Linked DNA regions of Homo sapiens. The protein of the gene in region 2 interacts with the protein of the main gene of each other region in a pairwise test. Each region holds a gene or a part of one and is shown on either strand. Other genes may lie near its edges.

Evidence for each region.
Region 1: the proteins of GAS1 (region 2) and DLK1 interact in a two-hybrid assay, tested with the Homo sapiens proteins (one study listed by BioGRID).

The regions. Positions count from the first base shown.
Region 1 is NC_000014.9:100,723,007-100,729,905, forward strand, and holds the start of DLK1 (protein delta homolog 1 isoform 1 preproprotein), read left to right. Parts: upstream 1-3,885; 5' UTR 3,886-4,062; coding exon 4,063-4,129; intron 4,130-5,389; coding exon 5,390-5,453; intron 5,454-5,929; coding exon 5,930-6,060; intron 6,061-6,899. UniProt on the Homo sapiens protein: May have a role in neuroendocrine differentiation.
Region 2 is NC_000009.12:86,944,507-86,952,163, reverse strand, and holds the start of GAS1 (growth arrest-specific protein 1 precursor), read left to right. Parts: upstream 1-4,657; 5' UTR 4,658-5,384; coding exon 5,385-6,422; 3' UTR 6,423-7,657. UniProt on the Homo sapiens protein: Specific growth arrest protein involved in growth suppression. Blocks entry to S phase. Prevents cycling of normal and transformed cells. Binds 20(S)-hydroxycholesterol (20(S)-OHC).

The DNA.
Region 1 (6,899 bases), on a different chromosome or scaffold from region 2:
GGGAGGATGGAGAACGTTGGGTGTGGGGACAGGGGACAAAGGCATCTCTTGTCTGTAGGATGCCCACTAGGACTGGATCAGTGGGGGCTCAGATCCCCCCACCCCGGCAAAAAAAAAAAACAAAAAAAACCAAAAAAAAAACCTAGTCTAGGCAGAAGCAAAGCCTCAAGGCATGGAGATCCCCACCGAGGCTGTGGGGGTGGTGAGCAGAGCAGAATGTGAAGGTGGGGTGAAGCCCCCTCGCCGGCCACCCCTGCTCTTGCCCTCCCATCCCCGCTGGTGCCCGGGACTAGTAAGTCTCAGAGGCCCCTCTAGCTCCACCCAGCTGAGCTGCCCTGATCAGTGTTTCTGCCTTTAATCAGGGGCGAAGTGGTCTGGGGCTGGCTGGAGGAAGAGTTAGTGTTTAGAAAAGGAGGAGGGGGAGCAGACAGGAGGGGAGAGCAGAGGAGCGGGGAGGAAAAAGGGCTGGAGACAACACTTCTTTCCTTCCCTCGGAAAACTTTTGCTCATCACCAGCTCCTCTGCTGCCCCGGCAAAGCCCAGCAACACTGCCTCCGGACAGGTTCCCCTTGCTTTCGGCTCTTGCCTGCGGGGTGCGGGGCCATAGGCAGAGCCTTCGGCTTGGCTACAGGGAGGGAGTCCAGCTCATGCATCTCGATCTGGCCCCAGAGTTGGCAGGTCCAGTCCCTGCAACCTGTGTAGATCGCCTGCCACGCCATGCTATGAGGACCTGCGGGCTGCTGGCCTCATCTCTGTAATCCCGGGGGCCTGTACACGGAGCATGGCTCTCGAGAGAAGGGGAGGGGGGAGGAGGGGAGGGATGCGCAGATAGAGGAGGGGGCGTCCAGCTCCTCCAGCCTGCCGTTCCACAGCCCCCAGGATCTGCTTGCAAATGGCAGACTGTACCGCTTCTCCCCAAGGGACTACATTGGCATTTTCGCGCCTTCTGTGCAGACTTAAAGTCTGTGACAGTCACCAACCTCCCCTCCCTACCGCTCCTAAGCTACCCTTTCTCAGTGTCTGCTTGCTGAAAAGAAAGCTCCGGCCTCCTGAATTTACAAACGCTTTATTAAGATTAGAGCAAGCCAACAGAAATCTTCCTGGCTTGTAGGTCCTGTGAGACAAGAAAGTCCCCTCCCATCCCTCAAGTGTCCCTGCATGGGGCTCTTGAAGAGGGCCCGGGTCCAGTGGAGCCTGGGTGCCCGCCTTGGAGATCCTCTAGCTGGCGGGGGCAAGGGCTCTGGGGTGCAGCTGTTGGAGGAATGGCTGGAAGGGGTTGTGACCAGGCCCTGTCAGCACAGTGCTTTTCTGCTTACAAAAACCGGAGTTCCTTTCAGAGACAGGTGGGACATTCCTGTTTATGGGCTAAGAAACAGGGCTCACAGATGGAAGAGACTGGGCCCTTGGTGGGCACGAAATGGAGATAGGATTAGAGAGCAGGTGCCCCCCAAGCCAAGGCAGTGCCCTTTCAGCGTAAGCCTGTGACATTTTGACAGACTCCCTTGGGCGAGAATACCCTCCTCTGGCCTCCCTCCCTTTCCTAAACTGGGGAGGGCTGTGGTGGGGCTGGGGGCGGGGGTGGGAAGGGGGAAGAACCTGGATGGGGAAGGGAGGAGTCTAGGTATGTGTGTGGGTGGGGACACTGGGGCCCCCTAAGTGCTCCATGCAGTCCAGGGAGTCTCCTCTCTGCGGGACTTTGGCAAGAGCCTGGGAGGCCCTTGCCCCAGGGCTACCCAGCCCTGAGATCCTCCACCCCTCCTTGGCTTCTGGCTGAGAACTCAGCTCTTCCAGGTCTGCCTGCTGTTGGGATAATTTTGGAGGCTGAAGTCAGGGGCCTCGAAGGGAGGGAAGAGAGGAACCCTGGTCAGGAAGACCTTGGCGATCACCATGCAGTGGACATTGGCACCCAGGGTTGGGCCTGTCAGCCAGACACTCTCGTTCTAGGCCAAGGGCCTTGGGCAAAGGACCTTCCATCACTGAAGTTGGTTTCTTGACTTGAGGAAAGAGTCCACGGAAGAAAGTAGGGTCACAGGAATGCAAGGGCATGTGGCAGGCACACAGTGGGCACCCCAACTGCTCCCTACAGCCTGTCCCCAAAGCCGTTCCCAGCAGCCCCTACCTATCTGGGCATTCTGCAGATAACATCAGGGAAGGGATATCTTCCACCAGGGGCTGGGAGTTTCCCTCCAGCCTCCTTGGAGCCAGCCCAGAGCAGCTCTGGTCTCTGTCCATCCCTGTACCCATCCCGAGTGCCTTACTGGAGCACTGACTTAGGGGTGGTGGGCCTGGGGATGCCCATGGGCCTGCCTTCCCACATCTATGGCTAAGATGGGAAATCTGTGCTCAGACCTGCCAGGGCTGGACTAGAGGGCCAGGAGGTCAAAGCATCCAGCCTCCAGGTTCACAGTGGTGAGATCACACCCCCCTGCAGCACTGTGAAGAAGGGGAGGCCGCGAGCTGGGTGGGCACCCACTCCCTGCATCTAGGATATGTATGCAAATTAATATATGCAAATTAAGTATCCTAAACGACCCACCCAAAGATTGGGACGCCTGGGACCCTTCCCCCAGGAGGTGAAATATCTTTAATCCCCTCCTACCCCTCTCCCTCCCTATCTTTCTGAGCCTCCCCCATCCAGACTGGGTGCAGGGGTGCAGAGCTTTCCTCTCCAGCAGGGCTCTAAGCCTAAGCCGGGGGCAATGGGGAGGAGGGGTGTCTGAGGAGCACTCCCTCTCCCTGGGAGCTCTGCAGAGGAAGAGGGTCTCTGGCAATCAGCATCCTCTACCTCCACCTCTCCAGCGGGCGACCCCTCAGAGAAGGTCTCCCAGTGAGTCTGGAATACGTGCCGAGTGCCTGGAGTGCTATTGTGTGTATGTGAGAGCACATTGGTGAGGCTGCCCATGCATGCCACTGTGGACAAAGACAGATGCGATCGTGTGTGTGTGGGGACTGCGTATATGTTTTTGTCAGTGTGTGTGACCACGAGTCAGCTGGGTATGTGTGCTTGTGGGTATCAGGTGCATGGCTGTGCGTACATGTGTGCGTAAGAGTCGGTGCATTTGTGTTTCAGCGCGGCTAAGGCCCTGACTGAGATGCTGTGTGTGCGGGGGTGGGTGTGACTGAATGCGGGCACGGGTGTCCGTCTGTTTATACGTGTGTTTGCGTGTTTGGGTGTGCAGGTGGCTCTGCGTAAGCGTCTGTGTGCAGGGGGTCGGCACATGGGGGAGGATGCCCATGGTTGGGTAACCGCAGGTCCGCTTGACCCTCTGCCACCTAGGACTGTGTCTATACGGCGTCTGGGCTACAGTGTGTTTGAGTTGCCGTGTGCGTTTCCGTTGCGGGGTGTGGGTTGCCACGGGGCAACTGCATTTTTCTGCGTCTTCATGGCCAGGGGTACAGGGGGCGTCGGGCTTTTCCTGGGGGTTTTTCTGTGTGCGTGTGTAATTATGTGCTTAGTTCACATCTTCATAGTGCGCCTTTGTGTTTTCCTGGGTATCTAACCATTGCACGTGTGCCCGGGACTTCAGCGATAAGTGTTTCGGTGTTCCTGCGTGCGGATTTGTGCTCTCCGGGGAGGTCTGCGGCCCAGGTTCGATTCCTGCGACTTGTCCTAGGCAGGCCTGTATGTGCGCGGCGGCCGCGTGCTGTACAGTGTGAGGGAACGTGTACCAAACGCTCGCGGGATACCTGTGCCCGTCTAGCCAAGAGTGCACCCGTGTGCGCGAGCGGGCTTCTGGGACGCCGCCGTGGTCGGGGGCGGCCCTGCGAGGGGAGGGGGTCACAGGGACTGGCCGGCGCCGGCCCCGTGCGCACGGAGGCGGGGGCGGGGGGCGGGGGCCGCGAGGGGGGAGGCGGTACGAAAAGGGCGGCGCGCGCGGCGGCGGCGGCAGCTCCCCGGCAGCGGCGGTGGAGAGCGCAGCGCGCAGCCCGGTGCAGCCCTGGCTTTCCCCTCGCTGCGCGCCCGCGCCCCCTTTCGCGTCCGCAACCAGAAGCCCAGTGCGGCGCCAGGAGCCGGACCCGCGCCCGCACCGCTCCCGGGACCGCGACCCCGGCCGCCCAGAGATGACCGCGACCGAAGCCCTCCTGCGCGTCCTCTTGCTCCTGCTGGCTTTCGGCCACAGCACCTATGGTGAGTTCCCCGGCGGCCCGGCTCGCGCCCCCTCTGGGGAAGCCTGCGACTCCCCGCCGGCCGCCCGGTGCCCCGCACGCCCCGTCTCGTGAGCCCCAACTCCGCCCGTCCCGCCTAGCCCTAAGCCCCGCGCTGTGCCTGTCTCGCCCTACCCACCACGCTCGCATGCCAAGGCCCGTCCCAGGGGTCCCAGGGCGCAGGGGATGTGTGAGACCCCCAGCCCCTTCCCGCCCTGCAGAAGTGGCGCCAGAGGGGTGTCGGTGCGCTGAGCAAGGAGGTATGGAAAAATGGGGTGCTGTTGTGGAGTCTTCTATGAAAATACTCTGGGGTGCAACTTTGGGGTGTCCCTGTGTGAGCGTTCTGGAACAGGTCTCGGGGCGGGAGTGGGGGACGACTTTGCCGTCTTAGCCCCCAATTCCCAGAGAAGCCCAGCCTGAGCCCTTCCTGCGTGGCGCGTTTCTGTAGGTGAGGGGCTGCGACACTTCTGTCTGCAGCGGCCATCTGTCTCTGACAGCGAGAGAGTTGCCCCCTTCCTGCAGCGCCCCCCCACTCATTGCACCAGTGGTTGTAAGGGGGCTGTCTAGAAAGCTGGGGAGCTGGTTGAGTAAATGCACACAGTAGGTGCCTGTTAAAGTGTCAGAATCTCTAAGCAGTGTTGTTGCAACCTCAGCCCGCTAAGCAAAACCCTGTGTCGTCATCGTTTTTTTAATGCGAAGAGTCTGGGGTAGGGGAAAGAGGGAAGATTTGACCTGGGTGCCCGGCTTAATAGGGATGAACCTTAAAAAGAATGCAGACGCCTTACTGGGGCGCCCACCAGGTGAACCTGTCTGGGCTTTCCCGGAGTTGAACACCTCAAAATCTGCTCCTCTTTTCAGCTCAGGTTGCAAAAGTGACGGTCAGGCTGCATGCCCAGGGCTCAACATATTTCCCTCCACGGTCCCCGTCCCCGCTGTTAGGAGGACTTGAGGTGTCGTATTTGCTTTTGGGAGTCCGAGGAGAAGGTGTTTCTCCTGCTCCTAAGAACGAGGGAGAGTGTACTGTGGTCATTTCATTGCTGGGAACGTGGCAGAGATGTTTTTCCTGAGTGCACTGAGCCCCATCCATGCTCGGATAGGAAGTGCCTACTGTGTGCCAGGCTGGTAGGACCCAAGAGGGCTGTTGGTGCCCTCGAGGGCAGTGGTGGGCTGTGTGGGCGAAGACAGCCTTTGCCTTGGCCTGGGGCCTGGTGGGGTGAATTGTATAACCTTTCTTGTACCTCAGGGGCTGAATGCTTCCCGGCCTGCAACCCCCAAAATGGATTCTGCGAGGATGACAATGTTTGCAGGTAATAGAGTGGCTCCTCAGAGGCAGCTTGTAGGGGCCACGCAGAAGCCTGGGGAGTCGTGAAGTCAGGCAGAAAAAAATAGGGGGCTTGGCCACTACGCTGCAGCAAACAGCTTCCGGGCCCCTGCAGAAAACTGGTGGGGCGAGCTGGGGAGATGGGGGGGGCGGGGGGGGGGCAGCCACAGCTCCTGTCTGCGTTCTCAGAGGTGGGGGGGCAGGTGGGACCACTGCAGGCCACTGCGGCAAAACGCAGCACTCCCCCGGGATCTCGGGGCCCCTCCAAGTCGGCCCCCTCAGCTTGGCATGTTTTCTCTTTAAGTTTTCCCATTCAGGTGGCTGGTGTTTACTTCCCAGGACCACCGGCTGCCACTGTGCAAAGACCCCCAAGGGTCCTTGGTTCCACAGAAAGTAGCCTGAGCTGCCTCTCTACCCCTGCCCTCTTCATATGTCCCCACCTTTCTCCCCCACCCATTGCAGGTGCCAGCCTGGCTGGCAGGGTCCCCTTTGTGACCAGTGCGTGACCTCTCCCGGCTGCCTTCACGGACTCTGTGGAGAACCCGGGCAGTGCATTTGCACCGACGGCTGGGACGGGGAGCTCTGTGATAGAGGTTGGCACTCGCCTTTGTTCACCTCAGCTCTGCGTCCTTACCTGCCTGCCCTAGCCCCTACCACCTCCTCCCAGTCTCCTGTTGCTGGTGTTCCTCACTTCCTCATTCCTGCACACTCCGTGCCCTGTATTCTAAAGATCTGTTTATAAATTTCCTGTGGGTACCGAATGCCTCCTCAGAGGTAGGGACTTTATTTTGCTCTTCTCTGCGCCATCAGCACCCAGCACCTAGAGGGAACATGGCGTGGGGGCCAGGGAGCTGCCTGTTGAATAAAGAGTCACAAAATACACATACAGCTGGGCCGGTGGGACCACAGACCCCAGGCTGCCTGTCCAGGTCATGGAAGCCCAGTGATGGACAGGGCTCTGGGGATCTCAGAGCTAAGACTCCCTAGAAAAGCACACGCAAGACTGTAAAGAGGCTGCAAACAAACAAACGGGGTGGGGGGTGGCCAGCACTGCTCAGTGGTTGAGGGGCAGGTGCTGAGTCAGGGCCAGGAGGACAGGGCTGGGGGGCCTGGACTGAGTGGGTCAGGTGTAGGGGGAGGCTGCAGTTGGGAAAAGCTGAGAAAGGGTTAAAGTGAAGATGGGTGTTATCTGTTGATTTCATTAATTTATGCAATCTTTGCCTCCATTACCCCAAGCAATTGAGAGTTGGCTGTCACTGCATTTTCAGGCTGCGAAATGTTCGTCTAAGCCCATTTTCATTTGGCAAAACCAGCCCTAACGTTTGAGCAAACTGAAGTCCACAAAAAAACTCCCAGCTGTGTAGCAGCCTGCCCTCAGGGCCCCTGTCCCTCAGTCCCCAACATTAGTAAAGACGGTACAGATAGGGAAACT
Region 2 (7,657 bases):
AAGGGATGGAGGGAGTTCCCCCATACTGTTCTTGTGAGAGTGAGTTCTCAAAAGATCTGGCTGTTTGAAAATGTGTAGCACCCCTCTCCTTTGCTCTCTCTCTCCTGCCAGCCATGTGAAGAAGTGCTTGCTTCCACTTGCCTTCAGCCATGATTGTAAGCTTCCTGAGGCCTCCCCAGAGGCAGAAGCCTATAAAGCCTTCTGAACCATGAGCAGATTAAACCTATTTTTTAAATAAATTACCCAGTCTTTATAGTAGTGTGAGAACACACTAATACAGGGTGTCTGTGACTTAAGACTTCTGCTAAGTGGTTAGAGCCTCTGACAACTCCAAATGGCCAAGTGACATATTGTTGAGTCCTCTGAGGGCAGAAGTCTATCTCCTCCTACTTTATCTGGGTTATGTTGCTAAAGCACCAAAAGGTAATTGGTATTTGTTGATTGAGGTTTTTGTTCTTTCACTGAACCAGTCAACCCTTTTGGAAATATAATTTTATATTTTAAAACTTCAGAACTATTCTGTATTCTTTAATCTCTCAGGGTCTTTATTACTGTTCTTTGTAGTAGAAATGATTTGGACTAGTTCTGAGTTGGCTGATTTAGAAGACAAGAAGTGCTGATTCTTCATTCATTCAACTTATCAAATATTTTATTGACACCTATGATGAGCCATTAATTGAATGTAGAATGTGAAGAAAAGGAAAGAATTCAGGCAGATACTAGCATCTTTCACCTAAGCAATTGGACAGGAAGAAAAGTTCTAATGCTCTATTGTTGCATAACAAACCATCTCAAAACTGAGTGGCTTAAAAGAATATTTTTTTGTTATTTCTCAGGATTCTTTGGGTTGACTGAGCTAAGCTCTGCTCTTCTTGCTTGAGGCAAGACCAGAACTAGAGAAAGGTGAGTGTAGTGTCTAAAGTACAAAATTTAAGGAGGCACTCACTCTTGGAGTCTTGGAGCCCAATTATGAAGGTCAATGCCTCCTTACATTTTGCACCAAAATGCCTCACTTGCTTCACGCTGATCTTGACCCTGGCTTGGGGTCTCTCTCATGTGTCTTCAGTAGGATGGCAGCTAGAGCTGGAGTCACCTGAAGGTTCAGCTGGGCTGGACATCCAAGTTAGTGTCTCCACTCACAAGTCTGGTGCCTTCTTCACTCACATGGCTGAAACAGCAGGGAGCTGGCCAGGCATCTCTTTCCTTCTCCATGTATCCTCTACACATAGTAAGCATGGGCTTCCTCACAGCATGCGAGTCTGAAGGTGGTCCAGATGTCTTACGTGGTGACTGGCTTCTGCAGAGCAAGTATTCCAAGAGGCCTGATAAGGTTTGGCTCTGTGTTCCCACCCAAATCTCATCTTGTAGCTCCCATAATTCCCACATATTGTGGGAGGGACCCAGTGGGAGATGACTGAATCATGGGGGTGTATCTTTCCCATGCTGTTTTCATGACAGTGAATGGGTCTCATGAGATATGATGGTTTTAAAAACAGGAGTTTCTCTGCACAAGCCCTCTCGTTGCCTGCTGCCATCCATGTAAGATGTGATTTGCTCCTCCTTGCCTTCCACCATAATTGTGAGGCCTCCCCAGCCATGTGGAACCCTAAGTCCAGTAAACCTCTTTCTTTTGTAAATTGCCCAATCTTGGGTATATCTTTATCAGCAGTGTGAAAACGGACTAATACAAGGCCCGAGTAGAAGCTGCAAGGCTTCTTGTGATCTAGCCTTGGAGGCCCCAGAATGTCAGTCACTTTCACTATGTCCTATTGGTCAAAGTCAGTAAGGCCTACCCAAGACTCAAGGGGAAGGGGATTATACTCTGCCTTTTGATCTGAGTAGTAAGGATGTAAAGGTAGGGAGAAAAGTGATGGAGACCAATTTTGGAGGGTATCTACCACAGTAAGCCCAGTAAACAAATAGGTTTTGGGGATGGAAATTTAGAAGTGCTCTTGGGGAAGCTTAAGTTTGAGATGTCCTTGGAACCAAGTGAATATATACATATGGAGATCAGAGAAAGACTGAGATTGAAAACATCAAATTAGGAGATGCAATTTAAAATCAAGGCACTAGATGTGGTTACCTAAGGAGTTGAGAGACAGAAGGAGCCACCAGGCAGTAAAATGAGAGAACAGGGGAGTATGGAGTTTCGGAAGCCAAAATTTTAGAAAGCGCTTTGAAAAGGAGGTGATCAGTCATGGCCAATGCTGCTGAAACGTCATATAAGCTGAGGACTGAGAAGTGACAATCAGGTAGAGCAAGGTTTTGGTCACTAGCGACTCTACATAATCGAATGGAACTCGATTATGTAGAGTGAATCGAGTGGGGAAAGTGAGTAAAAGCAAGATTTTCAAGTTTTCATGAAAATGGGATAGTGACTGAATAGGGACGTGGAGTCTAGAAGGTTTTACTATTATGTTTTTTTAAGATAGAAGACAGTATAGCCTATTGTGGTGAATGGAAATGACACAGTAAAAAGTGGGCTGAGAACCCCTCAGGCTTGCAATGCTAATGCTATGTGACTGGGATGCAGAAGTCCCCAAAGCATGCAGAGCTCTTGGGCCTCCCTTAAACCCCACTGAGAGCTGTATCAAGGCCAAGGTGGGGCAAGTGTTACCAAAAACACAGCAACAACACAGAAAAGAAACATGTTAACTTTGAGAGCAGTGATTCTCAAAGTTTGAGAGCAGCATTCCCTGAGAACTTGTTAGAAATGCATATTCTTGGGACCCACCAGTCCAACTAAATCAGAAACTCCAAAAACTAGGGATCTGAGTTTTAGGATACGTGCTAAGGTTTGGGTCCCACTATTCTAAAGGAACTCAACAAAAATTCAAGTAAAGATGAAACCGAGTGCTGACTTTGTTCCTTATGGGCCTAAAATAACAAAGCTTTAAAGACAAGAGGGGATTTTTCAATTGTCTAATTGGCTTCGAACCTTACCTGTGGAGGGATCCCAGACACAGAGAAGGTGTCTGAGTTGTCCAAGTCCTCCAGGCCGGACTGAGAGGACAACTCCAAATAATAGAGAAAAAAAAAGAGACAGAGAGCCAGGGATATGGTTGTTTTGATGTGCCATGAAGTTGCAGCCTTTCTGGATTTTTTTAGTATCGATTTATATTGCTGTTTGTCTACCAATACTCAAATCAGAGCAAGACGGTCCGCCTTACCTCAGTCTGGCTCTTTTAAGGTTTGATTTTGGTTTTGGGGACTGCAGAGGTGCAGCTTCCCACGGCAGACCAAGCGCCTCTGAGGAACGCAGCAGCTTCAGCAGGTACAGGAAGATTTCCCGCAGCCGGAGGAATCTCCTAGTGCTGGGCCTCCGGCTGTGACTTTTGCCATTTCAAATTCACTTGGCCTCTAGGGAGAGGCAGACAGCCCGACGCTGAGCGCGTCGGAGCCCCGGCTCCCTCTGCTTCTGGAGAGGAGATTTAGCCTTAATTTTTGTGACAGATGGAGTTGATAGTCTCTCCACGGAAAGGGGAGGAAAAAAGCGCCAGTTTTTGACAGGCCGCAGACGCCCGCTGCCTCTGGTGGCGGAAGGCTGCGTTGCGCCCCAGTTAAGGTAGCTCGGAAACTCCCTCGCCGAGAAGGCAGAGGTTTCCTCTGCAGAGCAGCCTCCCTTAAATATACTGAGGGGCTGAAACTTACACTTTAATATAAACCTTTGGTGCGTGCCCATTTATTCCGTCTTCTGTCCTGTGACTGCGGCCAGGTGGTAATTGCTCGACATTCCTGAATATTTTTAATGCTAGTTAAATTTTTTCATTATTGCACGTGTTGCAAGCTTATCTTCCTAAGAAATTATTTCGGTTGATTGGATTTCGGTCTTGCAATTTGAAAACGATGCCTGGCGCACGGGCGGTACCTGCCAGATGGCCTAGCTGGGGCTGGGGGGTGGCGGGCGGGTTGTAAGCATCTCATCAACATCTCCCTAATAAAGTGTGTGCTTCTTTCTTGTATGCTTCTTTAAAACAGTTTCAGTCTCACATTTTATCTCTGGATTCTCCCCTTCCCCTCTGTGGTGATCAAGACCCAAAGACAGGGAGCCTGGAAGATAAACTGAGTTCTGAATCCAGTCGAAAGCACAGATGGGGGCCAGCGAGAATTAATAAAACTACAAAAAAAAAAAAAAAGAAAAAAAAAACAAACAAAAAAGGCCCGTGGCTGAGCCGGATGCAAACAGCTGCCCCTAAGCCCTGCCCGCTGGTTCTGTGCGCGAGCTGGGGCTGCATATCCGAGCCTCCTTAAGAGTAGGAGGAGCTCCGGGCCTCCGTCAGGCTCCCTAAGCCGTTCCTTTCAAGCCCTGAATGCCTGAATGTGAGCTGCCCACCACCCTCCCGCCCTCCCCCACTCCGCAACCCCACTCCAGCGGCTCGTAAAAAAAAAAAAAAAAACTTTCAACAACAACAGGCAGGACCAATAGCATCTCGAAAAGCCGGGAAAGGGGGCCGAGCAAAGGGCGAAAGAGAGTGGAGAAAGGAGAAAGCGGGCAGGCTCGGAGCGCGCGGGGCCGGGGCTCGGCGAGCCGGAGGAGCGTTGCTAATGTTTTTGTTTGTTTGCTTTTCCATGCATGCATAATGAGGGGGCACCGCGGCACCACGCGGGGGCTCCCGGCCCACTTTTGTATTTAAAGCCTCGCTGCTAACGAGTCTGCAGCCGGGCTCAGCGGATCCGCTCCCCGGGCTCTTGGTCACCCGAGAAGCTGCCGCCGAGTGAAGCCAGGGAGCCGCTCTCCGGCAGCGCCGACTTTCTTGTTCTCCCCGCGCTTCCCGGAAAGAGCTCCCCGGAGCTCTGCGGAGGCCGGGGTTGCCGCGGGCGGAGGGGGAGGGGACGCGGGGCGGCCGGGCCGCGGGAAGGCGGGCAGCGCGCGGACGCCGGGCCAGGAAGCGGCGCGATGCGAGAGACCGCGGCGGCGGTGGCGGCGGCGAGGCACTGAGCCCAGGAGGAAGGAGCCGCCGCGGCCGCAGCGCGAGCAGCCGGCACGGGGACAGCCGGCCGCACAACGGATCTGCAGGCGCGGAGCAAAATGCACCCGCCGCGCCGCGCGGTCCTGCAGCCCCGCCACGGCCCCGCGGCCCGCACCCCCCCGGGGCGACAGTGAGCCTCTCCCGCCACCACCGGGGGCCGAGCGGAGGGCTCTCGGGTGGGAGAGCGGGACCAGATCTCGACAGCTGTTCATTTCCAGGAAGCCACCGCAGCCAGAGCGAAAGGGGACCTTCTGCCACCAGCGGGGCATCAGCCAGCGGCGCGCATGGATTTATGAAGACACTCATGCAAGAAGTGGGCAGGACTTGGACAAACTTTTCCACCGGCTCCGCGTCCGCCGCTCCCCGCGCCTCGTCTCCTTTCCCCTCCTCTCCCGGCGGCCGCCGCTGCCCGCGATGGTGGCCGCGCTGCTGGGCGGCGGCGGCGAGGCCCGCGGGGGGACAGTGCCGGGCGCCTGGCTGTGCCTGATGGCGCTGCTGCAGCTGCTGGGCTCGGCGCCGCGGGGATCGGGGCTGGCGCACGGCCGCCGCCTCATCTGCTGGCAGGCGCTGCTGCAGTGCCAGGGGGAGCCGGAGTGCAGCTACGCCTACAACCAGTACGCCGAGGCGTGCGCGCCGGTGCTGGCGCAGCACGGCGGGGGCGACGCGCCCGGGGCCGCCGCCGCCGCTTTCCCGGCCTCGGCCGCCTCTTTCTCGTCGCGCTGGCGCTGCCCGAGTCACTGCATCTCGGCCCTCATTCAGCTCAACCACACGCGCCGCGGGCCCGCCCTGGAGGACTGTGACTGCGCGCAGGACGAGAACTGCAAGTCCACCAAGCGCGCCATTGAGCCGTGCCTGCCCCGGACGAGCGGCGGCGGCGCGGGCGGCCCCGGCGCGGGCGGGGTCATGGGCTGCACCGAGGCCCGGCGGCGCTGCGACCGCGACAGCCGCTGCAACCTGGCGCTGAGCCGCTACCTGACCTACTGCGGCAAAGTCTTCAACGGGCTGCGCTGCACGGACGAATGCCGCACCGTCATTGAGGACATGCTGGCTATGCCCAAGGCGGCGCTGCTCAACGACTGCGTGTGCGACGGCCTCGAGCGGCCCATCTGCGAGTCGGTCAAGGAGAACATGGCCCGCCTGTGCTTCGGCGCCGAGCTGGGCAACGGCCCCGGCAGCAGCGGCTCGGACGGGGGCCTGGACGACTACTACGATGAGGACTACGATGACGAGCAGCGCACCGGGGGCGCGGGTGGTGAGCAGCCGCTGGACGACGACGACGGCGTCCCGCACCCACCGCGCCCGGGCAGCGGCGCTGCTGCATCGGGCGGCCGCGGGGACCTGCCCTATGGGCCTGGGCGCAGGAGCAGCGGCGGCGGCGGCCGCTTGGCGCCCCGGGGCGCCTGGACCCCACTCGCCTCCATCTTGCTGCTGCTGCTTGGGCCGCTCTTTTAGCCCTCGCGCCCCCCGCCGTTGGCTGCGGGAGAGCCCGCGTCCCACTCCCGTGCTCGCCTCGACCCCGCGCCGGGCACCTGTGGCTTGGGACAGATAGAAGGGATGGTTGGGGATACTTCCCAAAACTTTTTCCAAGTCAACTTGGTGTAGCCGGTTCCCCGGCCACGACTCTGGGCACTTCCCCTGAAGCTCCTCTCCGGAGCTTGACTTCTTGGACCTCCTCCCCCGCCCCAATTCCAAGCTCCAGAAACTCCCAACTCGTCTGCCGTCCAGAAAGCTAGCTGCAGTGTTCAGGACGTCCGGGAGGAAGCAAGCATGTGGGGGACAGAACAGTAGTCCTGGACTCGAAAGGGAAGGTGCTGACCAGTGGGGCCTTAGCAATTTGAAGGGTTGGGAAGGAGGAATTATATTTGCAAAGGGGCTGTCTATTAGCATATTTCCTTTGAGGGGGCAAAAAAAAGTGCCAGTATCGACTTTTACAGATTGTGGCCAGTGAGGATATTATAATCCTATGTAAACAGAAAAGTCCCACTTACCGATTCATTCTTTCACTGTTTGTATCTGCGCCCAGAATTCTCAGTGACGTGGGGGTGAGGGTGGGTGGCGATTGCCTTAGAGGGAACCCCTAAATTGGTTTTGGATAAGTTTGAGCCCTTGACCTTAATTTCATTGCTACCACTCTGATCTCTTAGCACATTTCTTAGGATTAAGGGTCCAAAAATGCTGATCTAAGGGGTTGCCATGGTGTTGAACAATGCAACTTTTTATTTAAAAAAGCTCTGCACTGCCATGTATGAAAGTCTCTTTATGATGTTTGTTTTTTTGTCATTTTTGTTCTTTACATCAAGAAATTTTATGTTTAAATATGCGGAGAATGTATATTGCCTCTGCTCCTATCAGGGTTGCTAAACCCTGGTACATCGTATATAAAATGTATTAAAACTGGGGTTTGTTACCAGTTGCTGTACTTTGTATATAGAATTTTTATAAATTGTATGCTTCAGAAATAATTTATTTTTAAAAAGAAATTAAAAGTTTTAAACTCACATCCATATTACACCTTTCCCCCCTGAAATGTATAGAATCCATTTGTCATCAGGAATCAAAACCCACAGTCCATTGTGAAGTGTGCTATATTTAGAACAGTCTTAAAATGTACAGTGTATTTTATAGAATTGAAGTTAACATTCTTATTTTCAAGAGAATTTATGGACGTTGTAGAAATGTACAAATGC